5 separate regions of the Homo sapiens genome follow, and all the other regions are linked to region 2. Evidence: fine-mapped expression QTL. A gene starts in region 2. Each other region holds a variant in brackets. All regions are shown on one strand. Distances are between the middles of the regions.

What was found. PIP is the estimated chance that this variant, and not a neighbour inherited with it, causes the effect. A credible set is the group of variants that fine-mapping cannot tell apart.
Region 1: its variant is the best candidate, but not a certain one, in a credible set for the expression of PREX1 in fibroblasts (GENCORD, PIP 0.52).
Region 3: its variant is the best candidate, but not a certain one, in a credible set for the expression of PREX1 in whole blood (INTERVAL, PIP 0.74).
Region 4: its variant is the best candidate, but not a certain one, in a credible set for the expression of PREX1 in whole blood (INTERVAL, PIP 0.62).
Region 5: its variant is the best candidate, but not a certain one, in a credible set for the expression of PREX1 in aorta (GTEx, PIP 0.59).

The regions. Positions count from the first base shown.
Region 1 is chr20:48,765,124-48,770,225 of GRCh38, reverse strand. The region is part of intron 1 of PREX1 (phosphatidylinositol-3,4,5-trisphosphate dependent Rac exchange factor 1); the gene reads left to right. Among named protein-coding and RNA genes, the nearest start is that of PREX1, 60 kb to the left of the region's middle. The variant G/T (reference allele first, on the strand shown) is at 2,462.
Region 2 is chr20:48,825,928-48,831,029 of GRCh38, reverse strand. PREX1 (phosphatidylinositol-3,4,5-trisphosphate dependent Rac exchange factor 1) reads left to right here and starts at 3,031. Exons shown (of 40, transcript NM_020820.4): 1 at 3,031-3,388. The coding sequence starts at 3,170. RefSeq lists silencers at 2,378-3,057, 3,468-3,537.
Region 3 is chr20:48,757,374-48,762,475 of GRCh38, reverse strand. The region is part of intron 1 of PREX1 (phosphatidylinositol-3,4,5-trisphosphate dependent Rac exchange factor 1); the gene reads left to right. Among named protein-coding and RNA genes, the nearest start is that of PREX1, 68 kb to the left of the region's middle. RefSeq lists enhancers at 1,026-1,075, 3,863-3,942, 3,456-4,450 and a silencer at 1,606-1,655. The variant T/A (reference allele first, on the strand shown) is at 2,828.
Region 4 is chr20:48,675,748-48,680,849 of GRCh38, reverse strand. PREX1 (phosphatidylinositol-3,4,5-trisphosphate dependent Rac exchange factor 1) reads left to right here. Exons shown (of 40, transcript NM_020820.4): 12 at 1,096-1,199; 13 at 1,441-1,490; 14 at 4,582-4,657. Among named protein-coding and RNA genes, the nearest start is that of PREX1, 150 kb to the left of the region's middle. RefSeq lists a silencer at 931-1,100. The variant G/A (reference allele first, on the strand shown) is at 2,989.
Region 5 is chr20:47,858,040-47,863,141 of GRCh38, reverse strand. It overlaps the pseudogene SRMP1. Among named protein-coding and RNA genes, the nearest start is that of SULF2, 75 kb to the right of the region's middle. The variant T/G (reference allele first, on the strand shown) is at 3,093.

The sequences.
Region 1 (5,102 bases), 61 kb after region 2:
TGGGCAAAACATGTGTTTTGAAAAGCTTGACAGGTAATTCTTATGCCCGCTTCCTGGGCATCAGACCCACTGACCTAGAGATGGCTCCCACCTGGCTTTTAAAACCAGATTTCTAATTGTTCTTTTTAATTGGTAAAGATAGCACATATTCTTAGCAGACAATTGAAATCCTGCAGAAAATTTTAGAAAGTCCATTCCGTGATAAACCTCAAATTTACCTCCTTGGGCTTACAAGTGATTTATGGAGCACCTGCTGTGTACTGAGTGTCCAGGCTGCCGCAGTGCACAATACAGACAAAAGCTCTCTCCCTCACCGTGTGTGCAGTGAAGACAGACAGTGAAGGTGTCAGCCAAGGAAAATTTGTAGTGTTCTCAGGTGGTAAGTGCTATGGAAAAACATGAAGCAAAATTAGAGGGCTGGGCTGCTGGGAAGATGTGGCAGTTTTCAATGGTGTGGGCAGGGCAGGCTTCACTGAGGAGGTGACGTTTGAGCAGAGACCTGAAGGAGCAGAGTGAATGAGTCATGTGGTTACGTGGTGACAGGCGTTCCAGGCAGAGGGGACAGCCAGTGCAAAGGTCCTGTGGCAAGAGCCTGTCTCATGTGTTTCTGCACCTTCAAGGGTGCCAGTGTGGGAGGAGATGAGGGAGAAGGGAGTTGCGTAGGAGGTGAGGTCACAGAGTGTGAGCTCATTCTGATAGCGCAGCCTCTGTTGGAGGATTTTAAGCAGAAAGGCAACATGCAAGGGCTCTTTGATGTACGAAGCCGGCCCCATGCCTAGTGGGTGCTGGGGCTCCTAGAGATGCCCCAGCGACGACGGTAGAGTAGGTGTTTGTGGCTGTCCCTGTGCCTGTGGTGGGCGGGGGACACCTCTCACACACCTGGAGAGGATCCCCTCAGGATTCAAGGCACGTCTCATTCAACGGGGCAGCCCCTCATCTCCCCTCCCCCGCACCACCACCCCCAGCCTCTTTGCTTCAGAACCTGAGAGCAGACACAGGCTTCCTGTTCCCGAATCTTCTTAGAAGCAGGGTTGGGAGGCAGCGAGGGGGTGTGTGTGGAGGGTGGCTCGTCTCTTTGGCAACGGGCCTCAAAGAAGCCAGGGCTTCGTGGATGCACAGTTGTAGAAGGAATGGGAATGGGGTCTGGCTCTGCCTGAAGCCAGAACGATGTATTGGCCCTCAGGGCTTGAGCCAGGACAACCCATGCGTGGACAGTAGACAAACCAGGGTGGACGGTGACAATCTCCTTTTAAACCCTTTGCTGAAAAAAAAAAAAGGGAATAGTTTCTGTTGCAGGATAATTACAGACAGTGAAGTGCACAGCTCCATTGGTGATTACGTATGCATCACCACCAGGTGAAGATCTAGAACATTCTTTGCCTCCAGAGTCCCCTTGAGCCCCTTGCCAGTCTTTATCCAGCCTTGAATGACGACTTTTCTTTTTTTTTTTTGAGGCAGAGTCTCGCTTTGTCACCCAGGCTGGAGTGCAGTGGCATGATCTCAGCTCACTGCAACCTCTGTCTCCTGGGTTCAAATGATTCTCCTGCCTCAGTCTCCTGAGTAGCCACCATGCCTGGCTAATTTTTATATTTTTAGCAGAGACGGGGTTTCATCGTGTTGGCCAGGCTGGTCTCGAACTCCTGAACTCAAGTGATCGGCCGCCTCTGCCTCCCAAAGTGCTGGTATTACAGGCGTGAGCCACTGGGCCCGGCCGAGTGACGGCTTTTCTAACCTCTGTCATCAAAGAAGGGTCTTGCCAGTTTTGGGACTTCGTAGATGTGGAATCCCACGGGTGGCTGCACCCTTTTGTGTCTGGCTTCTTTCGCTTGGGCCATGTTTTTGAGATGCGTCCAGTTTGCTGCGTGTGTTAGCAATTTTCTTTTGATTACTGAATCATTTTCTGTTGTGTGAGAACACCACCATTTGTTCATCCGTTCTCCTGTTGATGGACATTGGTAATTTTAAAATTTGAGTTTTTATTGTGTTCCATTCTCTGTGCTAAGCACTTTATGTTTTGAGTGATATTTCCTTGAATCCTCAAAAGAACACTGAGAGATAGAGGCTTTTACTCTGTGTTACATACATAGGAATGGAAGCTTGGAGGCTTATGGAACTTCACCTCCTTTCCCCTCTTAACCAGTATTTATTCAGCATCTTCTGTCTACCTCAACCCATGCTGTGGATTCAGCACAAGCAGCCAGAGACCCTCACCATCACGGAGCTGGCAGTGCGCAGAGAGGAGGACTCTAAATTAGCAAAATGCATAGAACAACACTTTGTGCTACCTGCATTACAGGGAATTAAAACAGATTATCGAGGTAGAGGGTGGCTCGGGGGCGACTTGTGGCTTGGGTGAGGCTGCTTCAGCCAGGATGGTCAGGGGAGGCTCTCTGTGGAGGTGATATTTGAGCATCCTGTGCAGTGACGATGAGGGGCGGGGAACAGCACGTGCAAAGTCCCT[G/T]AGGTAAGAAAAAGCCTGGGGTGACCTAGGAAGGGCAGACTAGGCATTGGGGCTGCAGTGGAATGAGACACACGACTCTGGGGAAATGTCGGGAAAGTACAGCGTGGTCTGTAGTTGGAGAGGGCTGCTTTTACGTCGATGCACTGACAGATAAGAACCCCATCAGTGATGGTAACGTAAGCGTTGGCATTTCACTCTGGTGCGACTCTGAAGTTAGGGTTCGTTATCTATTTCCTTCTCTGAGTTAGGTGGAAACTGAGGTTCAGAGGCCCACGTACCCTCCCCCGCTGACAGGTGGGGACTTGAACCAGCTTGTCTGACACCAGAACCTCCATCTTCCAGCTCTCAGCCATCCCCTCTTCAGGGCCCTCGTTTGAGGGGGCTTCTTCATGCTTCTCTGGTTCCATCATCTCCCCTCCCTCCTCGGGGGCTCTGTCCCATAGTCAGGTCCCCCAGGGAAGGAGCCATTGAAAGACTCCCTTGCAGAATCCCTGGTGAGCTGTCGTAGTCTGTGGTGTGGCTGGTTGTCACTGGTCTGGCTGGAAGGCAGGGAGTCGAGGTGGTTAGAATGTGTGGGCCTGACCTCATAGCCCCAGAGCTGGGAGCCCTTTGAGATCCTCTCATCTGACCACTGTTCCCCGTTTCGCGGACGAGGGAACAGAGTGTGGGAGCAGCTTTCTCAGGGTCCCACAGCGAGTCTGTGGCAGGGCTACATTTGGCAACCAGGTCAGCAGGCCCTGAGTGGTGGGCGCTGTGCAGATGGGGAAACTGAGGCCCAGAGAGGAGGAATCAGTCATCTGAAATCATTCAGCTAGTGTGCAGCATTTCTCGTAGTCCTCATGGTAATCCATGAAGCCGGCAGTGTTATCACACAGTGTCTATTTTACAGGTGAGGAACCTGCCCCAGAGAAAGGGGTCTCCCTCCCTCTACCCGTCCATCCACTCACTCACCAAGAATGAGCATAAATGAAAGAAGATGGAAACTGGGACTAAGTGGGACCTCTGAGAGGTCTTAGGCTGGTGGGCAAGCCTGTTATTAATTGAATCATCACATAAATCAAGGTTAAGTTATAGTCATGGTGGCACTAAGTATGGGAGCCTATGCATGGGTTTCCTGGGCCCTGACCAACCTTGGATCTCACTGGGGAGGGCAGGGAATGTGAGACTTGAAGCAGCTGGCAGGAGGGAGATGAGTGTTGCAGGTGGAGGGAGCACCTGTGCTGAGGCCTGGGGGCAGGAGCAAGCTGGGTGTGTTTGGGGAACAGCTGAGGATCCTGGAGGCCGGTCTGGCTGCAGCACAGCTTGGAGGCTGAGGTCAGGTCCTGCAGAGCCCTTCTGGATGGGGTTCTCAGAGAAGCGGGGAGCGGCTGATGGGCTGGGCAGGGCAGTGGGTGACCACATTTGCCTTTTGTGACGATCCCTTTGTGTCACTCCACCCAGGGATGCCTAAGTGATCTAGGCCAGTGGTCCCCAGCCGTTTTGGCACCAGGGACGGGTTTCCTGGAAGACATTTTTTTCCACGGACCTAGGGGTGGGGAAGGGATGGTTTCAGGATGATTCAAACACATTACATTTGTTGTATACTTTGTTTCTATTATTATTACATTGTAACATATAATGAAATAATTATGCAACTCACCATAATGTAGAATCAGTGGGAACCCTGAGCTTGTTTTCCTGCAACTAGACAGTCCCATCTGGGGGTGATGGGAGACAGTGACAGATCATCAGGCATTAGATTCTCGTAAGGAGGGTGCAACCTAGATCCCCGGCATGGGTGGTTTGCAGTAGGGTTTGTGCTCCTATGAGAATCTGATGCTGCTGCTGATGTGACAGGAGGCGGAGCTCAGGTGGTCATGCGGGCAATGGGGATGGCTCTAAATACAGATGAAGCTTTGCTTCTTGCCTGCTGCTCACCTCCTGCTGTGTGGCCCGGTTCCTAACAGCCCACGGCCCAGGGATTGGGGACGCTGATTTAGGCCTCCCAACTCCTGGTCTTCCCACGAGGCTACACTATTCTCCTTCCCCTAATTAAATTCTCCCAATTTTTGAACTGAAGAAGCAGTATAGCCCCATGGGAAAGAGACTTGGCTCTGAAGCCCCTGGGGCCTGCACTTAGGTCTGGCTCCGTCCTCCTCCTCTGCATGACTTTGAGCAAATAACTCTGTTCCTTGTCTGTGAAATGGGGGTGTAGGAGTCGCTTCCTCCTGTACCCCTGGCATTGGCATGCAGTAAGCACTTAATATGTGTTGCAGCTGGTTGTCGTGTCCACGTTTCATTGGAAATGCAGGCATTATCTAGTTCTGACAGCTTAGTATCCCAAGGTTTCCCTTATCTGATCTTTCTAAATGGCTTCTTGCTTTCTAAACTCAGGAACTGAATAGATCTGAATAGTGAAAGATACTTGATGTTGCTGTAATTATTATAGTAATTACTGTTATTAGACCATCTGTCCTTAATGAATATTTGTTTGTAGATACTTTTGTGGGTGGGGAAAGAAAGCATTTTGCAGCTTACTAAACATATGCCAAACAATGTATGAAATGTATAGCTAGACTGTATGATAATATCTGTTTTGTAGTAATCATAATAACAGAGTATTAGGATTGTGTTTGGCCGTGATTCATGGAGATACAACAGG
Region 2 (5,102 bases):
TCCTACACCAGCCTCAGGAACCAACTGCCTCTGGACCTCTTGCTAAATAATGTCCTTATGCTTTAAGCTATCAATAGCCCAGTTTTCTTCTCCTTGCAGCCAAATGCATCCTATTAGATTCAGCACTCAATCCACGCATTGTAAAAGACTTCACTTATTGAGCACCTACTGTGTGCTCTAAGCACCCTCCATGTATGCACTCAGGAACCTTGCAACGACTTTATGATGTAGGTACTGATATTATTCTTAGTTCACAGATGAGGAAAGCAAGGCACAGAGAGCTTAAGTATGTTACTAAACGCTGTATTATCTTTTAGTGTCATCATTACCACTGGGGATGGGGATGGAAGGGGAAAAAGATCCCAGCAGAATCTGAGGAAGTAACGATGTATAAAACATTGGGGTGGGCCAGAGATGGGACCCATCCACAACGTGGAAATGTTTTTTGGCAGTGTGGGCCAATTCTTGGGTGAAATGTGGGATTTGTGTGTAAACTTGAGGCTAACCTTCCTTGGTCATGGGCTGAGAAGGGAACTAACATTTGTTGAGCACCTACTCTGTGCCAGCTATGTGTGTCAGGTACTTTACATCAGTGGTTCTCAACAGGGGGCAATTCTGTCCCCAGGGATATCTGGCAATGTCTGGAGACACTTTTTCTGTTTATTTTTGAGGCAAGGCTTACTCTGTTGTCCAGGTTGGAGTGCAGTGGTGTGATCACAGCTTACTTGCAGCCCTGACCTCCTGGGCTCAAGCAAGCTCCCCACCTCAGCCCAGCAGCTGGTACTACAGGTGTGTGCCACCATGCCCAGCTAATTTTTAAAATTTTTTTGTAGAGACAGGGTCTTGCTATGTTGCCCAGGCTGGTCTTGAACTTCTGGGATCAAACAATCCTCCCACTTGGACCTCCTAAAATTCTGGGATTAGAGGCCGGAGCCACTGTGCCCAGCCTGGAGACATTTTTGATTCTCAGATTGGGGAGGGAGTGCTACTGGCATCTAGTGGGTAGGGGACGCGGCTAAATGTCCTGAAATGCACAGGACACGCCCCTCCCCCAACAAAGAGTTATGTGACTCCAAATGTCAATAGTCCCAAGGTTGAGAAAGTCTGTATTGCATAGAATTCGCTCTCACAAAGACTCCCCTTTTACAGATTAGACGACTGAGGCCCAGAGAAATAACGTGTCTTGGCCAAGGTTACCCTGCCAGTTGGATTTGGACTGGGATACAAATGCAAGCCCGCTTCATTCCATGGTCCATTATGTTCCAGCCATGTTCTCCCCTCGTGGTAGACAGAATTAATTTAAAGATGAGGAAACGGAGGCTCAGAAAGGTACCGTGAACAGTTTAAAGTCACAAAGCAGAGATACTCCAGAGGCCTTTATTAGGAATAAAAATATAAATAAAAAACCAGCTACCTTTGGACACAATTGACTCCACTACCCAAGCGTGACAGGCTCACCTATCTCATGTCCTTTACTCCCTGCCCAGGGGAACTTCACTCAGCCCAAGGCCCAGATCAAATGCTACCTTGCCCATGATCCCAAAGAAAGAAGTCAGAGAGGGCAGAAGCCACCCCATTCTCTCCCTGTGTCCTTAGGCACTTACAGTATTGAGAGGCCAATGGGAGGAAAATCCTAGGCTTTTGGAACAGGAATAAATAAGCAATGTTTCTGTCCATAAAATGACTACAGTCTAGAGGCGGATACTATGTGGATCACTTTATCCCCTGCAGAGACGATACAATCTCTGGTCCGGAAACACGGGTGATTAGGGATTGTATGGGCCATTTGAGAGTGGGGCCAGGCTTAGAGGGCCGTTCACACATGCAATAATAGTAAGAACAAACATTTACAGAGAACTTTCTAGGTGTTGGGCTTCACACATGCAATAATAGTAAGAACAAACATTTACAGAGAACTTTCTAGGTGCTAAGTACTTCCCATGGAACCCCGGGGAGGACCTTGGAGCTAGGTACCATGATCGTTCCCGTTATACTGATGAAAACACTGAGGATCTTGAAGCAAGGAAACCAGCCCAAGGCCACCCGGCCAGCAAGTGGGGAGCTAGGATTTGAACCTGAGCAGCTGACTCTAGGCCCCAGAACTTCCTCCCCTCTCCATACCTTCCGATAAGGCGGGTGATGATCAACATTGCCCAGAGCAACCTGACAAGAAGCTGGGTTTCCCAAGGCCTTATCCCATGGGGTGGGTGGATGGAAGGGGGAGCAGGCAGGGTACCTGCCACTTGATCAATAACTCAAGAGCAGGTAATAATTTCTTCTGGGAAAGGTGGAAAGGGCAGGGTCAGGGGGCAAAGAAGTTCAGAAAGAAAAGGAAGGAAGGAAAGAGAGAGATGGGAAAGGAAACGGGAAAGAGAAAAGTGAGAGCGAGCGCGCGCCACGCATGTTCCTTCCCAAGGTCGTGGTAGCACCGAGGGCACCGCGAGGGCCCGGCGTTCCCGGGAGGGGCCGTCACTGCCCAGAGAGGGGCCGTCACTGCCCAGGCAGCGGTCGCCCCTGACTTCCCGGGGCCGCGGAGGCGCGCGTGGCGGGGCTGGCTTGCCCCCGAGCGGCTCCGCAGCGAGCTTTCCCAGCCCGGTGTTTACTTGGCCCGAGCAGCGGCCGGACCTGCAAGCAGGAGCCTGCGCGCGGCGGGTGTCGCGTGTGCCGGGTGGGAGTGGCGTAGCCCGCGGTGACTGCGGGTTGGGGGGGCGCCACGCGTCCGGGCGCGGAGTTGGTACGCTCGGTTCGGCGTGCGCGCGGCCTCGGACTCCCGGCTCCGCGGGGCCCTTCCGGAGGCTCCCGCCCGACCCCCGAGCTTCCGACGGAGGCGCCGAGCGCCGCGCCGCGTCCCCAGGGGCCCCGTGCACGCGCAGAGCGCCTCTGCGGCCGAGCGCGGCGTGGCACTTGGCAGACGGTCCCTGGCGCGGGGGCGGGGGGCCAGCCGTCTGGGAGCCCCGAGGGCCGCCCCCTCCCGCCCCTCGCCCGGCCCCCGCGCGCTGCCTCCGCCCCCGGCCCAGCCGCCCGGCCCCCAGTCCCGCCCGCCGCGCCGGGAGCCCGGCCCGCCGCTGAGCCCGGCCCGCCGGCGCGCCCCGTCCGGGATGGGGCGCCTGGACGCCTGAGTTGCCGCTCGGCGCGACGGAAGGAGCCGGCGCCGCGCGGCCGCGCTAGAATGGAGGCGCCCAGCGGCAGCGAGCCCGGCGGCGACGGGGCCGGGGACTGCGCCCACCCGGACCCCCGGGCCCCTGGCGCCGCGGCGCCCAGCTCCGGCCCCGGCCCGTGCGCGGCCGCCCGGGAGTCCGAGCGCCAGCTGCGCCTCCGCCTCTGCGTCCTCAACGAGATCTTGGGCACCGAGAGGGACTACGTGGGCACCTTGCGCTTCTTGCAGTCGGTGAGTGTCGCTCGGGAGCTTGGGGACAGCTTTCCCTCCAGCCGCTCGCCCCGCTGCGGTCCCCACAACCTGTGGCCGTGGTCCCCGTGGGTGGAGAATTGCCTCGGGGGCGCCCCGCAGGGCGCGCGGAAAGCGGGGGGGATCCGAGCTCCTCCAGAGCTGTCGCGTCGCCTCCCTCCCTGGCCGGCGCACGGTCCTGCTCCGACCGGGGCTCTCCCGCACTCCACTTCCCCGCGGCGCGCGCTGCCCTTTTGTCTTTTCTTCCCCGTCCCCGCCTTTCAAATAGTTTTAAAATTAGTTACATCCGCGATGCAGGGGCTTGGGGACCCCGGCGGCGCCGGGAGCTGGCGCTCCTGCGTCTTTTTCCCAGGAATAACTACGCGCCCGGTGCACCACTCATCTAGGACATACCGTAGGAGCCCCAGAGCCCAACGTCCCTGCGCGTTGATGGAGTAGGATAAAACCTGAAGCTCAGAGGAGGGGCGGGGATTGACAGAACCCCAGGGTAGAATCCCCCATGCACAGGTTTTTGCTGGAGTTCGGGGAGAGTGGGTTTCGAACTCAAAACTCGGCAGTCCAGGCTCCCTAACTGCATCCACCCCCACCAACTCCCCATCTCCAAGTGCAAAACCACGGCCTCAGACTTTGTAAAATAACAACCGACCACTTACTATGTGCCAGACACCTTACATGTGTCATTAATTAGCAGGTTTAACCTTCACAGGCGGTCTATGAAGTAGGGACGAGTATTTCCCCCATTTTTAATTAAAAAAATTTTTTTTTGAGACGGAGTCTCCCTCAGTCACCCAGGCTGGAGTACAGTGGCGCAATCTCGGTTCACTGCAACCTCCGCCTCCCGGGTTCAAGCAATTCTCTTGCCTCAGCCTCCCGAGTAGCTGGGATTACAGGCACGCGCCAGCCACCACGGCCGACTAATTTTTGTATTTTTATCAGAGAGGGGATTTCACCATGTTGGCCATGCTGGTCTTGGACTCCTGGCCTCAAGTGATCCGCCGACCTCGGCCTCCAAAGTGCAGGGATTACAGGCGTGAGCTACTGGGTCCTGCCTCCTCCGTTTTTAAGATTGGGAAAGTTTAGCTCCAGAGGGGCCGGGTAGCTTGTCTGGGATCGCACAGCTGATTAAGTGGGGGTACTGGGCTTTGAACCGGGACTATCCCAGCTGGTGTTCTAAACCCCTATTCTATGCTGCATTTTTCTTTTGCTTTTTTTCTGTGAGAGGGAGGAAGGGGCCACTTCCCTACTCTCCTAGGAAGTGAGAAAAGTGGCCAGCGGGTGGAGGGGGTGGGACGGGGCAGAGCCTTGGATGGAAGTTAGGAGACTCTAAAGTCTTTAATCTCCATGCCTCCTGCTGGGGCCTCATTTACTCCCCTTCTCTGCTCTAGGAAGTCTTTTAATCCTGGTTCAGGAAGGGCTGGTGTGGGGGTGGCTCTTTCAAAGACCCTAGAGCCAGGCTTTGTAGCTCCTAGTCTTTGGGAGAAAGAGGGAGACTCTGGGGTCCTCTGGGGCTCCTCATGGCTTAGGGGTGCAGCTGAGGCTGTGTGAGATCAGAGTTCCAGCTCAGGGAGGAGACAGCCTTAGACTAGAGCCCTTCTGCCTGTGAAAGGAGATGTACTGGGGGCAGGGGGATGTGGGAGAGGGGGTTGTGCAGAAGCATTGAAAACCATTTGGCTAAAGGACCCTTCTAGGAAGGCCT
Region 3 (5,102 bases), 69 kb after region 2:
TCTGGACACATTTTTGATTGTCACAACTGAGGAGAGGAGGGTTGTTATTTGTATCTAGAGGGTAGAGGGCAGGGAAGCTGCTGAGTGTCTTATAATACTCAGGACATCCCTCACAGCAAAGAACTATCCACTGAACTGTCAAGGTACCAAAGTTGAGAATCTCTGCTAGAATCCCACTCTGATGAGCCCATTTTTCAGGAAAAAAATCAACAACTGAGGAGCCCAAAGGAGTAGGGAGAAGCTGGGTTGTGAATGGGAAGGATTTTAGACCATTTCTGACAACAGTGAAGGGAGATAAATTCTGAACGGCTTGGAGAAGACTTAGCAGGAAAAAGATCTGCATTCCATTAGTGATGTCTGCCCTGGGTGAGGGTAAAGGCGAAGTAGCAGGTTCAGGTTTGCCTTGCCTGTGTCTAGGACAGAAGTCTCACACTCAGGTGTTCACAGGGCGCAGCAGTGGGTTGGGTGGTGGGAAATTGAGGAGCACTTGTCCTGGGTGAAGGTGATGGCTATCACTCTGCTCTACAGCACCTGCAGCCTTGTGGGCATTTGAGACCCATGTGTCAGTTTTTTCAAAAGAAGCTTGGAATTTGGATTTTAATGGGAAACCTGATATTCAAACTTAGGCCCAAGTTTCTCAAACCCCTCTGCAGGCCAAAGGAATGATGCCTCTGAGTTACCAGTTTGAGACCCATAAGGTAGCCCCATCATGTAGAGGAGGCTCTGCATAAATATCTGTTGAAGGAAGGATGGGTTGTTGGTGAACTCAGGAAAGTTTGTAGGCCAGGCCCCAGCCCCTTGATGGGGGCTGCGTGAAGAAAAGCATTGGGTTCCTCTCAGTGTCCCCCACTGCCTTCCCCCACTGTTGCATCAGACCTCTTCATGACAGGTTGTTGCAACTTGTTTTTTGCATCAACTTCCTCTCCCGATGTGGTGGGGAACGGGGCGGGGTGGGGTGAGAACTGGGCACCTTTTACCAGGGCCTAGAATCTGGGTGGGGGTGGGAGTAGTCTACTCTAGATGATTGATTGACTAATTAATTAAACACATCCTTTTCGAGGGTCTGCTGTGTGCTGGGTCCAATCCTAGGCTCTGGGACACCACAGTGACCTAGACAGACAAACATCCTTGCCTTCCTGGAGGTGAGACTCAAGTGGGCTAGATGGATAATAGACTGATATAAACACACATAATGTCCATGGTGACAGGTGCTGTGAGGAAAACAGAGCAGGGATAGACGTTTTCGATAGGATTGTCCTGGAAAGACTGAATGTGCCTCGGGGCCTTTGCCCCGGCTGTTGACCCTGCCCATGATGCTGTGTCCTCCGATACACGCAATGCTGTTTGCTCCCTGTGTCTGCTCAAATGCCATCTTCTCAGAACGGCTTTCTCTGAACAGCTCCTTGAAATGGCATTCCCACCTTATCCTTCTCTGTTTTCTTACCCTGCTTTAGTTTTCTTTGTAGCAATCATTCCTACCTGCCATTTTATTTTAAAATCAGTGTATAGTCTGTCTCTGCCACTACTTTGTGAAGGTGGGGAGTTAGTCTGATTTGTTCATTCACTGATGTGTCATTGGCTCTTAGCGCAGTGCCTGGCACATAATAGGTGTGCAGTAAGTATTTGCTGACTACACAGGCGAATGTAAGAATGCATAAGTCCTTCCGTGGCAGGGTCATGGCTTATATCTGTGTCTCCAGCACCCAGCTCGGTGCCTGGTGCACGGCAGGCCCTGGTTAACACTTGCTGGGATGGTTGGTACTCGGAGAGGACTTGTCCCCCTAGAATATCATCACAAGCAACTTCCTGCCCCTTTCCTAGTCCAGCCTCCCTCTCCTGGCTCAGCCTTTCTGCCACTTTTTCCAGGAAGTGTTTGTAGTTACAAAGTGTTCACCTGCATCATTTCACTTAAACCTCAACAACTACTCCTCCCCCCCTTTTTGTTTGGTCCAGGAAATTGACTCAGAAGTGTGGTGACTTGCTGAAGTCACGTGGTTGGCAGTCAGCAAGGAGGATGGGGCAGGGCAGAGGGGTGCGCTGGTGGTGATGAGGATGTGGGGGGCTCTGCAGTTTATAAAGCCTTCCCCTTCTCATCTCACCTCAGGAGACTCGGAAGCAGGCAGTCTATAATAATAGAGCTATTTGCAGGATGGAAAAAACTAATAAAAATAAGTAAAAATAGTGTGGGATAAATGTGAGTGTGCTTGGTGCATGTAGAAGCCCTACAGATGTGGTTGATCCAAATCCAGGTTTCCTTAGGAAGCACAGTGGGTTCTGTCTACCTGCACCAGGGCTTGGACTCCCTGCAGACACTCTAGAAACTCAAGATGGGGAGATCATAATAGCCAATGCTTTTTTTTTTTTGAGGCAGGGTCTTGCTTTGTCATCCAGGCTGAAGTGCAGTGGTGCGATCTTGGCTCACTGCAACCTCTGCCTCCTAGGCTGAAGTGATGCTCTCACCTCAGCCTCTCGAGTAGCTGGGACTACAGGTGTGCGCCACCACACCTGGCTATTTTGTTTGTTTGTTTGTATTTTTGGTAGAGATGAGGTTTTGCCGTATTGATTGATTGCTCGAACTCCTGGGTTCAAGCAATCAGCCTGCCTCGGCCTCCCACAGTGTTAGGATTACAGGTGTGAGCTCACAGGTGTGAGCCTGGCCAATAATAGCTAATGTTTTTTGAGCACCTGCTATGCACCAGGGACCATTCAAGTGCTTGTTATGTGTGTTAGCTTCTGTAATTCTCATTGTAATCCTGTGTACTCATTTTATCCCCCGTTATAGAGGAGGAAATGGAGGCAGAGAGAATAAATAATTTACTTCAGGTCT[T/A]AGAGCTTGTAAGCAGCAGAGCTGGGATTTGAGCCCATTTAAATGCTTTGCCTGTAGTATTTCTTTTTTTCTTTCTTTTCTTTTTTTTTTTTTTTTTTTGAGATGGAATCTTGCTCTGTTACCCAGGCTGGAGTGCAGTGGTGCGATTTCAGTTCATTGTAACCTCTGCTTCCCAGGTTCAAATGATTCTCCTGTCTTAGCCTCGCAAGTAGCTGGGATTACAGATGTGAGCCACCATGGCTGGCTAATTTTTGTATTTTTTGTAGAGACAGGGTTTCACTATGTTGGTCAGGCTGGTCGCGAACTCCTGACCTCAGGTGATCCACCCATCTCAGCCTCCCAAAGTGCTGGTATTATAGGCGTGAGCTACCGCGCCTGGCCTGCCTGCAGTATTTCATATCAGCCTCACAATAGCCCATGAAGTCAGTAGTTTTATGGTCCCCATCCATGTTATAGATGAGGCCCAGAGAGATGGAGTCAGTTGCCTAGGTCACAGAGCAGTAGGTGGCAGGGGCAGGATTTGAACCAGGTGGCTAGTTCTAGCCTTTGAGCCTCATCCACTCTTACATACTGCTTGCTTAGGAGATACAGTGCCCTTCTAGCAAGGAGTAGAGAGAGTTTCTAAGGGTAGGGAGGGCTTCTGAGAGTTGGGGCATGGGAGGAGGAGGTGGAATGCTGGCCATATCTTTGGCCTCCGCAGGGGAATGTGTATGGGTTCCCCGCAGATGCAGCCTGGATTCAGGTGGGCTAGATGGATAATAGACTGATAATGAACACACATAATGTCCATGGTGACAGGTGCTGTGAGGAAAACAGAGCAGGGATAGGCGTTTTCGATAGGATTGTCTTGGAAAGACTGAATGTGCCTTGGGGCCTTTGCCCCAGCTGTTGACCCTGCCCGTGATGCTGTATCCTCAGATACACGCAATGCTGTTTGCTCCCTGTGTCTGCTCCACGTGAAACCTGCCTCCACGTCTGACCGGGGACTGCCTGTGGTTCCGCAGCCACCTCCTCTGACCTTCAGCCCTGCACATGTAGAGATTTTCCCCATCAGCTCAGAAGTATTTTGGTGTTTTAACAGGCAGCGAGGCCGTCCTGGTGTGTATTAGGAGAACATCTGCTGAAGTGCCTGGCCTGTGTGGCTGCGGTGCTGCAAAGCCCTGTCTTTCACCCCCCCAAGCTCGGGGGGGCCCTACACCCTCTTTCTTTTTGAGGCTGCATTGCGACACCTCAACCACTCCAGGGCACACCAGAGGGACGCTCCACTGCCAGCACCTGCGCTCCTCTGCCTGATGGCTTTGTCTGCTCTGAGCTGCTCTGTCACTTTCAGGGAAGATGGGGAGTGCCAGGATCACCCCCACTGCCCTTAAACTAGTGACAGACAGGGCTGATGTACAGACTCCCTGGCCTCCTCACTCCCTGAGGGTGGCTGTGAGGTGTGCGTTCCACACGGTCTGTCTGGGGCCTCATGGTGGTAACTTGCTTGGTCTCATACCCTTCGTGGGCTGCCTTCCCTTCTTGGTTCCACCTCCCTGTTGGTGTTTCCAGGGACCATCTCCCACCTCCCACCTCCCAAAGAAACTACTTGTACTCCACTTCTTGCCTCAGGGTCTGCTGCATCTGGGGAACCACCCCAAGGGTCCTGTCATGGTACACCCGCTAAGATGCACCCACAGCACACACTCCCTGCATTCTCTGTGCACATAGCCACAGGCAGAGTTGATTGGTAATTTTGTAGACATTTAAATCAAGATTTATTCTTTTTGACAATGCAGTTTTCCTTTTGTATTTGGAGCCAATGCACGTATTTTTAAAGGCCTCCAACATTTCTATAGGTCCAAGGAATGGTGCCAAGGAAATGTGCCCAGGGAAGGGGCCTGGTCTGAGCTGGTCCAGGGGCTACACGGAATTGAAAGTGCCCACCCCTTCACTGGACATTTACTGAGGACTTATTGGGCACCTCCTGTGATCCTGGCTGGATCCTGGGGGCCGGGGGCTCCCACCGTGGGCAGAGGCAACAAGTTATTTACAAGCAGTGTCAGATTTAATCCTCATGTCAGCGACTTGCAAGGTGAGGCTCCATTACACAGATTTTATAGATGAGGCAACTGAGGTGCGAGGCTTGGCCGACTCCAGAGCCTAATGTGTGATTCATGCCCTGTTTTCCTCTTTCCTAAAAAGGGGATGCAGTAGCCCACCTTGTGGGATTGTTATGCAGGACGAACATGCTGACCATCAGTCACCTGCTGAACCCCTTGTTACTGGGCATCTGCTC
Region 4 (5,102 bases), 150 kb after region 2:
GACGATAAGATCTTTACTTGCTTATCTTTACAAAGCAAGATAGTAAAACATGATAGGTGCTAGGGAAGGAGGGTAAAGAGTGTGGTGTTGGCGTTCACTTTTGAATAGGGGAGATGGGGAAGGCCTCACCGAGAAGGTAACATTGGAACCAGGACCTGAGCCACCAGTGAGGGAGGGACCCAGGTGGGCATGATGGTTCCAGGCAGAGGGAACAGCCAGTGCAAAGTCCTCAGGCAGAGTCTAAGTGGGTTGTGCAGGGAATAGCAGGGAGGGAGTGTGGCTGCCTCAGAGTGAGGAGGGGGCGTGGTAGGAGACGAGGTCAGAGGGCACAGGGCTGATGGGAGAGTCCAGGAGGTGAGATGAGATCCTATAGAGAATTGTAGGGTCTTTGGCTTTTACTCTGAGTGAGCTATGAAGCTGTTGCTGAGCTCTGCGTAGAGGAAAGACCTGCTTGGACGAACACGCTGGCAGAATCCCTCTGGCTGCCCTGTGGAGACTGTTGGGACCAAGGGTGACAGCAGGGAGCCCAGCAAAGAGGCTGCTGTGATAGTCCAGGTGGGAGGCGAAGGTGGTTCGGGCCAGTGTAGGAGTGAGGTGATTGGTATCTTGAAGGTTAGGGCCTTATAGGCATTGCTAATGGATCTGAAGCATCAAGCATGACTTTGTGGGATAGAGATGGCTCCGTAAATCTCAGCAATGTGGTCTCAGGCCCCAGCATGCTTGTCCCCACCCATCCATTGGTGATCTAGATCTAAGGACATGCTGAGCCAGAGGGGTCCCAGTGCAGGCTGGATCAGGGGCATTTCTGGGTCCCTCACCCCTGTAGATGCCCCACCCCAAGCTGCGAGTCTCAGCAGGGTCCTGCACGTAGCAGGAGGATGGGGTATCCTCATGTGCAAAATGGGGAAGTCATAGCACCCACCTCGTGGGGTTTCAGTGAAAAAAAAGCCTGGCCAGCAGTGAAGCCTGATGCTGGTGGGTGTGACTGGGAGGGGCAGAGGGGGCGTGGCTGGCAGTGAAGGCCAATGCTGGGGGGCGTGGCTGGGAGGGGCTGAGGGGGCGTGCCCAGCGTCACAGGTCCTCCTGTCTCTCCAGTTTCCGACAAGCACCAGTTCAAGAATGAGCAGGTGATGTATCGCTTCCGCTACGACGATGGCACCTACAAGGCCCGAAGTGAGCTGGAGGACATCATGTCCAAGGTAGGGGCCCTCCGCCCCTGTGACTCTGACTCAGCTGGCCTCGTTCACCTCCACCCTGGGTTCGCCTCAGAGCAGGCCTGTGCCCCTTGGCTTGTTTGCCTTCTCCACTGCCCACAACTCACCCCTGCCCCCATTACCCTGCCCTGCCCCGTCCTGGAAGCCATCTCTCCCATCAGCCTGGATTTGGAGGCTCGTGAAGGATGTGGCCTGATCCCAGAATTCCTCCCCTTTTTTCTTTCAGGGTGTGAGGCTTTACTGCCGTCTTCACAGCCTCTACACCCCGGTGATCAAGTAAGTTACTCTTTCCAAGCTCCAATTTCACCTCTACCTCTTCTCAGCTGTGTGGCCTTGGGCTGGCAACTTAACCTCTCTGAGCTCCAGTCTCCTTCTCCATTAAATGGGGCTTGCAGTGGCACCTATCCTTTAGATTTGTCATTAGGATTAACTGAATTAAATTGTGGGAAGCACTGCAGTGTAGTGATGCAGGTGTCAGTTCTGGAGCCAGACAGACTGAGCTTGAACCTCCCTCCTAGTTAGCAGCTGTGTGACCTTGGGCAGAGTTACTTAACCTCTCTGTGCCTCAACCGTTTCCTCTGTGAAATGGGGATAATAATGGGCTCCACCTTAGGGCCTTTGTGCCTGCTGTTCCCTTTGCTTAGGATGCCTTTCCTCTGCATACCTTCATATTCGTTCCCTCACTTCCTTCAAACGCCTCCATATCACAGGGGTCTTCCCTGCCTACCTGCATAAAGTGTCACCAACCTGGTACTTTCTGTCCTCTGTATTAGTCTGTTTTCATGCTCCTGATAAAGACATAGCCAAGACTGGGTAATTTATAAAGAAAAGGAGGTTTAATGGATTCACAGTCCCACATGGCTGGGGAGGCCTCTCAATCGTGGAGGTATGTGAAAGGCACGTCTTACCTGGCAGGCAAAAGGAAAATGACAGCCAAGTGAAAGGAGTTTCCTCTTATGAAACCATCAGATCTTGTGAGACTTATTCACTACCACAAGAACAGTATGGGGGAACTGCCCCACGATTCAGTAGTTTCCCACTGGGTCCCTCCCACAGTATGTGGGAATTATGAGAGCTGCCATTCAAGATGAGATTTGGGTGGGGACACAACCCAACGATATCAGCTCCCTTTGTTCATTTTAATTTTCTTCTTCTTTTTTTTTTTTGAGACAGGGTCTTGCTCCGTTACCCAGGCTGGATTGCAGTGGTGCAATCACAGCTCACTGCAGTCTCAACCTCCAGGCTCAGGCAGTCCTCCCACCTGAGCCTCCTAGGTAGCTGGGACTACAGGCGTGCACCACCATGCCTAGCTAATTTTTTTTTTTTGAGACAGAGCCTCGTTCTGTCCCCCAAGTTGGAGTGCAGTGGCGCAATCTTGGCTTACTGCAACCTCCGCCGGGTTCAAGTGATTCTCATGCCTCAGTTGCCTGAGTGGCTGGCATTACAGGTGCCTACCACCAGGCCCGGCTAATTTTTGTATTTTTAGTAGAAGTGGGGTTTCACCATGTTGGCCAGGCTGGGCTCGAACTCCTGACTTCAAGTGATCTGCCTGCCTTGGCCTCCCAAAGTGCTGGAATTACAGGCGTGAACCACTGCACCTGGCCTTTTTTTATATGTTTGGTTTTTTCTTTTTCTTTTTTTTCTTTTTTTGAGACGGAGTCTCGGTCTGTTGCCCAGGCTGGAGTGCATTGGCATGATCTCGGCTCACTGCAACCTCTGCCTCCTGGATTCAAGCGATTCTCCTGCATCAGCCTCCCGAGTAGCTGGGATTACA[G/A]GCATGCACCACCATGCCTGGGTAATTTCTATATTGTTAGTAGAGATGGGGTTTCACCATGTTGGCCAGGCTGGTCTCAAAACTCCTGATCTCAAGTGATCTGCCTGCCTCAGCCTCCCAGAGTGCTGGGATTACAGGTGTGAGCCACCGTGCCTGGCCTTATTGATTGAAATTTAAATTAAAATGGCTACCTATTGGAGAGCAGAGGCCTAGGGACTCAGTAAAAGCTTGTCAGTGAATGTTGAAAGATGATTAACTTCTTTTGCTTCTGTTTCTGCATCTGTTAAGTGGACATAAGAATAGCTCTCACCTCTTGGGTTGCCATGAGGATTAAATTCACGGAAGGTGCTTTGAATGGCTCCTGGCATTGTATAATGAACGCCAGAGATTGGTTATTCTTTTTACCACAAAGCTCACAGTTGTGGATGAAGGGAGAGAGGGTGACCTGATTCTTATCCCAGCTGCAGATTTTTCTGTCCTCTGACCTGATAGCTCTTATCACCTCTCGGAAGAGTGGAGAGGAAGGACCATTTCCTAGCATTTGCTGGCCCCGTGGGATGTCAGGCCCTGGGAACCACTTTCATCTGCCATCCTGCCTCCGCCCTCCTGGGCTCCTCTGCTGCTGCTCTTGTGCAAGCCCCAGAAGGCAGGTGGGGCTCCTTGGCCAGCCTCAAAGAAGGAAGCGGCTGGGGAAGGTAGCAGACCCCCACCAACTGCACGTGGAGCCTGTCAGACCCCCCCAGTCCTAAAGCCTGAGAGAAATCCTCCAACTAGACTTTATCAGCCTTGGCATGGACTGGCCACAGAAGCGCGTTTTTGTCACAGCTTCAGAGGCTGAGAAGTTGTTGCAGTTCGGCTGCAAGGTTAGCGGAACCCATGGGATCCAGGCTCGGCAGGGATTCAGATGCTGTCACAGGCCAGGGCAGTTACCTCAGGAAAGAACCGTGAAACTCACAGGCCTCTGTGCTGCTCGGCCCTGATAGACCACACCAGCCCCTTGCAGGGGCTTTCCACAATGGTTTGGTTTAAATACATCAATGTCAACCACAAAACAAAAAGGAAAAAGGAAAGGAAAGAATGGAGGGTCTCCCCTGCCACTCTGTGAGAGTCAACATGGCTCCCCAGCCTCGGCGCCGGTGGCATCGTAGCCAGGATGAGTCTCTGTTGGGGGCTGCCTGGCATTGTAGGATCTTCAGCAGCATCCCCGGCCTCTACACACGGGATGCCAGCAGCACCCCTGCCCTAGCCCCTCCAGGTCTTGACAGCCAAAAATGTCTCCAGACATACCCTGAGGGCAAAATCACCCCCAGCTGAGATCTCCTGGGCTAGAGACAGAAAGTTTCCAGAGCCCTGGAGCTGCTGCCTCCTGCCTCCCACTCTGTAGGTGGAAGGAGGCCTGGTTTGGAACAGCCCTGCCCTCGGTCACACTGCAAGTGATGTGTGGAGTCTGGGCTGAGACTCGGACCCCTGCCCAATGCCTAGAGAGCCTGGAGATCCTTGACTCGTGGGCACGTCCTGCAGGGAAGTCAGGACCACCCCCACCTCTGTCCTCCCCGCCCTGCCCTGCTCACTGTGCGCTCACCTTCTCCACAGAGACCGTGATTACCACCTGAAGACCTACAAGTCAGTGCTTCCCGGGAGCAAGCTGGTGGACTGGCTGCTGGCTCAGGTGAGGGCCTCCTCAGGGGTGTGTGACCAGTGTTCTGCTTTGTCCGTCAGTGTGGGGCTTTCTGTTTTGTTTAAAGATTTTTTCTTATTGCTTTTAATTGTGGCAAACTGCACAGAACATAAAATTTACCATCTTGATCTTTTTTTTTTTTTTCTTGAGACAGAGTCTTGCTCTGGCACCCAGACTGGAGTGCAGTAGTGCAGTCTTAGCTCACTGCAACCTCCGCCTCCCAGGTTCAAGCAATTCTCCTGCCTCAGCCTCCCAAGTAGCTGGTATTACAGGCGCACGCCACCACACCCAGCTGATTTTTGTAATTTTAGTAGAGTCGGGGTTTCACTGTGTTGGCCAGGCTGGTCTCGAACTCCTGACCTTGTGATCTGCCCGCCTCGGCCTCCCAAATCACTGGGATTACAGGTGTGAGCCACCACGCCCGGCCATCTTGATA
Region 5 (5,102 bases), 970 kb after region 2:
GTATAACACCCTCTCTTTGCATGTAGGTGGGACTTGCTGATAGGATGGGATTTCACTCCTGTGATTAGATTATGTTATGTTGCAGATGTGATTAAGGTCCCTAATCAGTTGACCCTGAATTCATCCAAAGAGAGATTATCTCAGTTGAGCCTGACCTAATCAAGTGAGCTCTTTAAAAGAGAATATCAGGCTTTTTGAAGGAAGAGATTTGAAGCCAGAGACATGCTCTCCCACTGTCCTTGAAGAAGCAAGCTGCTGTGAGTTCTATAGCTATAAGGAAATGAATTCTTCCAACACCACAGGAGCATGGGAGAGGAGCCAAGCCTCAAATGAGACCCCAGCCCCAGCCAGCACTCTGATTGCCGCCTTGGAGACCTTGATCAGAGGGCCTGACTAAGCCATGCCCAGACTTCTCATCTGCAGAAACTGTGAGATCATAAAAGCACATTGTTTTAAGCTGCCAAGTTTATGGCAATTTATTACATTGCAATGGAAAACTAATCCAGTCTGCTTTGTGACTGCCCCCACTCAAGGCTGTGGAGAAACTGCATGGGATGGTCCAGACCTGGCTTTAACCTCATGGGGCTCATGGTCTGGTTGGAAAGAAAATCTACACTCAAGAATTTAAATCAGTGGCTAGACATGGTGGCTCACACCTGTAATCCCAGTGCTTTGAGAAATCAAGGCAGGAAGGTTGTTTGAGGCCAGCAGTTCCAGGCCAGTCTGGGCAACATAGCAAGACCCCCATCTCTACAAAAAATAAATTTCAAAAAATTTTAGATTAAAAAAAAACCATGTGTGTAGTTCTAACTACTCAGGAGGCTGAGGTGAGAGGATCCCTTTATTAAGGCCAGGAGTTCAGGGTTGCAATGAGCTATGATCACACCACTGTACTCCAGCCTGGGAAACAGAGTGAGACCCTGTCTCTGAAAAAAAAAAAAACAGTTAAATCAATAAACAAGCTAGTTAGGAAAAGACTTTGAAAAAAATGAGCATGGCTTTGAGTCAGAGAGTAATTGGGGTGGGGGCTGCATTAGCACGGCTGGTGGTCAGTGAGGGCTTTTCTGAGACTATTTTGATGCCAAAATCCCAAGAAAGAGAAGAAACCGGCTGGTCAAAGAGCTGCAGGAAGAGCAATCCCAGCAGAGGGAACAGTATGTGCAAAGTCCTGGAGGCGCAAAGTGTGGTCCTATTTGACAGACCGTGTGTACAATCACTTCTCACTGAACAAACCTCCAGTTGTGGGTTTAGACTAGCACCCTTGAATAACATCTACCATTTCACATATTAAGCTGATTCTACAATGCATACAAATATCTTCATAGTCACAATCTATACAGCTGTGGTCATCTATTGGGGGCAATAGGGGGCTCTCCAGATGTAACCCATAGCTGGAATCTAGTGCCTAGTAAGCCATAGTATGGGTTTGGGGGGTGCAAGGAGGCACACACAACACCCGGGATGTCTGTTTTCTTTTTATATACTTTTCATATACTTTTTACGTATATGTATTTCGTGTGTGTGTGTGTGACAGGGTCTCACTCTGTCACCAGGCTGGAGTGCAGTGGCACAATCTCAGCTCACTTCAACCTCTGCTTCCCAGGCTCAAGCGATCCTCCAGCCTTAGCCTCCCAAGCAGCTGCAATGACAGGCGCAAGCCACTATGCCTGGCTGATTTTTGTATTTTTTGTAGAGATGGGGTTTTGACATGTTGCCCAGGCTAGCTTCTAACTCCTGAGCTCAAAGCGATCCACCCACCTCGGCCTCCCAAAGTGCTGGGATTGCAGGAGTGAGCCACCGCACCCAGCCACATATGTGTATTTCTTTTTACAGCTGCCTGAAATTTTGGCAGGGAGCACTGATTTTTCCATTATAGTAATGATATAATGTCAGCTCTATGAGGGTATAATTTGCATATAATAAAAGCCACCAATTTTAAGTGAACATTTTGTTGAGTTTTGACAATTGTATGCAGTCATATAAATAACCACCATAACAATCGTAATCCAGAATGTTCCCTCATCCCAAAAAAGTTTTCTCCCACCCCTTGGCAGTCAATCTCTTCTCTCCACTATCAGCCCCTGGCAACCACTACTCTTTGTCACTTTTGTTTTGAATTTTCTAGAATTGCATGCAAATGGAACCGCATTGTGCCTGGCTTCTTCCTAAACATACTATTTTGTTGTTGTTAATACATGTGTTTGGTGAGTGAGGAGGGTAACAGAAGTGAGAGAGACAGCGGTGTGCACAGCTGGTATAGGCTTGGAGGCTGAATGCCACACAGAGCAACACAGACACACAGACAGACAGTCCACCCAGCAGGGCAGGCCGGGCAGCATTCTGGGGCCTGTAACACTCGGTTGATCAGTGAGAGCCGGCAGGAGGTCTGGCCCAGGGCTGGAGGCACCCAGGCACCCTGGAGACTCCCTTGTCCGAGGTCCCAGGTGGTGTTGGTGGTGGCAGTGGGGCTCAGCTCACACCATTCAGGGCCTTGCAGGCAAACCTGGGCAGCACAAAGGCTGTGCGGTGTGTGTCTGGGCTGTGGCATTTCAGCTGCATCTGCCCCACCTGCTGCTGTGTCAGGTGCTGCACCAGCTCCCGGTCACGGGTGATCATGTTCTGCCGCACAGCATGAAGCCAGTCTGGCTGCAGGGGTAGATGGGGACCATGCAGTAGGTGTAGCCCACCACGGCTACTGGCAGAACTGCCACATCTCCTTATGAGGTGAAGGTGCAGCCACTGGTGCTCTCCCTGGCAGCAGAGAATGCTGTCCTCCGCGAGGGCCACCTTCACCTTCATCTGCTGACAATAGGCTTCCTTGAAGAGGCTTTCAGCCGGGCCCATGTGGTCTGAGAAGTCAGTGATACATCAAAGGCATCCTGGTTCTGCTTCATGAACTCAAAACTGTCACCCACATGAAGGATCAGCTTTGAACTAGAGTAGCAACTGGCCATGCCTAGCAGGAACTTCTTAGAGACTTGGATGACATCCTTGTCAATGTCACACTGGACCACAGACTCCATGGAGAGGTGCTTCCCCACCTTGTGCAAGACACCCATCTCTGCCCACGATGATCAGCACCTTTCGTGGCT[T/G]GGGGTGGCTGCAGAGAGGCAGGATGGCTACCATCTCCTGGCAGGAGAACTCATCCCTCCCTATGCCCAGGACGATGCCATCCAACACCAGCATATTGCTGTAGGTTTTACTGCAGAAGACAAGGATGTTCTGGTAGTGCGAGTGCTGGTCGTGGAGCAGAGACAAGGCCTGCCCGGACCACAGGCTACACGTCTGGTGGAACGAGACTTCGGGGATGGCAGTGAGGCTGGAGGCAGCAGGGCCCTTAGGGTCAGGCTCCATGGCAGGCAGGCAATGTGGGGCACGGACTTGGGACTACAGGCCACGTGGAGCCACAGCACACTGGGACCGGCTGCATTATACTTTTGAACTCCATTCCTGCTGCTTTTATCGGTAAATCATTTCTTTTGCGTTGCTGTTGAGTAGTATCATATTCCATTGTAACTGCATACACTGGTGTGTTTACCCATTCACCGGGTGATGCGCATTTGTGTTGTTTCATGATGAATAAAGCTGCTATGTGTGGACATATGTTTTCATTTCTTTTGGATAAATACCGAGGAGTGAGATCACTGGGTCAAACAGTGTGAGTTTCACTTTGTAAGAAACTGGGAACTGTTTTGACACAGTGGTGATACCATTGGAACAACCACCAATCATGTAGGAGTGTTCCGTCTGCTCCAAATGTTTGCCAACACTTGGTCTTGTCAGTCTCTCTCAATTTAGCAATTCTACTGGGTGTGTCGTGGCATCACATGGTGATTTTACTTTGCATCAACAAAGACATTGAGCATCTTTTCATATGCTCAGCTGCCACTCATATATCTTCTTTGGTAAAATGTCTGTTCAGATCTCTCATCTCTTTTTAACCAGATTTTTCACTTCTCAACATTGAGTTGGTCTCCATAACCTCCACCACCAGATGTGACTTTCATTATCATGTTATACTGCAGAACAAAAGTGACTCTGTAGATGTAATTAAGATTAAATAGTCAGCTGACCTTCAAATAGGAAGATGATCCTCAATTATCCAGGTGGGCTCAAGATAATTACAGGAACCCTTAAAAGCTAAAAAGGAAGGCAGAGAGATTCAAAGCATGAGTAGGACTCCACCCACCATAGCTAGCTTGAACATAGGGAGGACCACATGGAAAACATGAGAAGGAAATGAATTCTACCAACAACCAGGAAACTTGAAAGAGGACCTGAGTCCCAGATAAGAACCACAGCCTGGCAGATACCCTGATGTTAGCCTGGTCAGATCCTCAGAGGAGAATCCAGCCACATCATGTTGGAAAACCTGTGAGATAAGACATGGCTGCTGTGTCAAACCCCTAAATTTGTGGCAATTTGTTACACAGCAGTAGAGAAGTAATACACCATCTCTTTATTAACAGGAAAAAAAAAACCCATGAAACTTAAATTAGGAGACCCATGTATTTCAACACAAATGAGAGTGCATACTCCTTTGTGGCACTAAAGTATTCACACCTGTGTGTTGCTACGCAAACAAAACACACTTGTGTTGAAAAACTACAGCCAACCCCTTCCAGGACATACACCTCCTACCTGGCCCCCGTGGGCGTTTGAATTCATGACTCCGTTTTTAGAGTTTCTGGAAACTGTCTAAGTTCTCCTCCTCACAGCCTCCCATCCCAGGAAGCCCAGGCCTCTTGGTTCTCAGGGAAGGTCCTGCTCACAGTTTCCAGATGACATCATCCCCGCAGGAGCCAAGGCTCTAGTTGGAGGTGTTTTCTTCCATTCTTTGTGTGTTTTGTTTTGTTTTTTACCTTCTTAGACCCAGGAACCAGTCCAAGCAATGTGTGCTTCCCCAACATGTTAACACAAACAGCCGCTTCCCAAACTGAAGAGGCACATGCTACCTTAATTACGCGGTTGCTATTGAAACACTCAAGTGACAGACAAAACCTTTCATTTGGGGAGAAAATTAATTGTACACAAACAAGAGCACATTTCATCTCGAATTAAATTCTTCAACATTCCCTTGGCAGAGAACCCTCCGGCCGTTT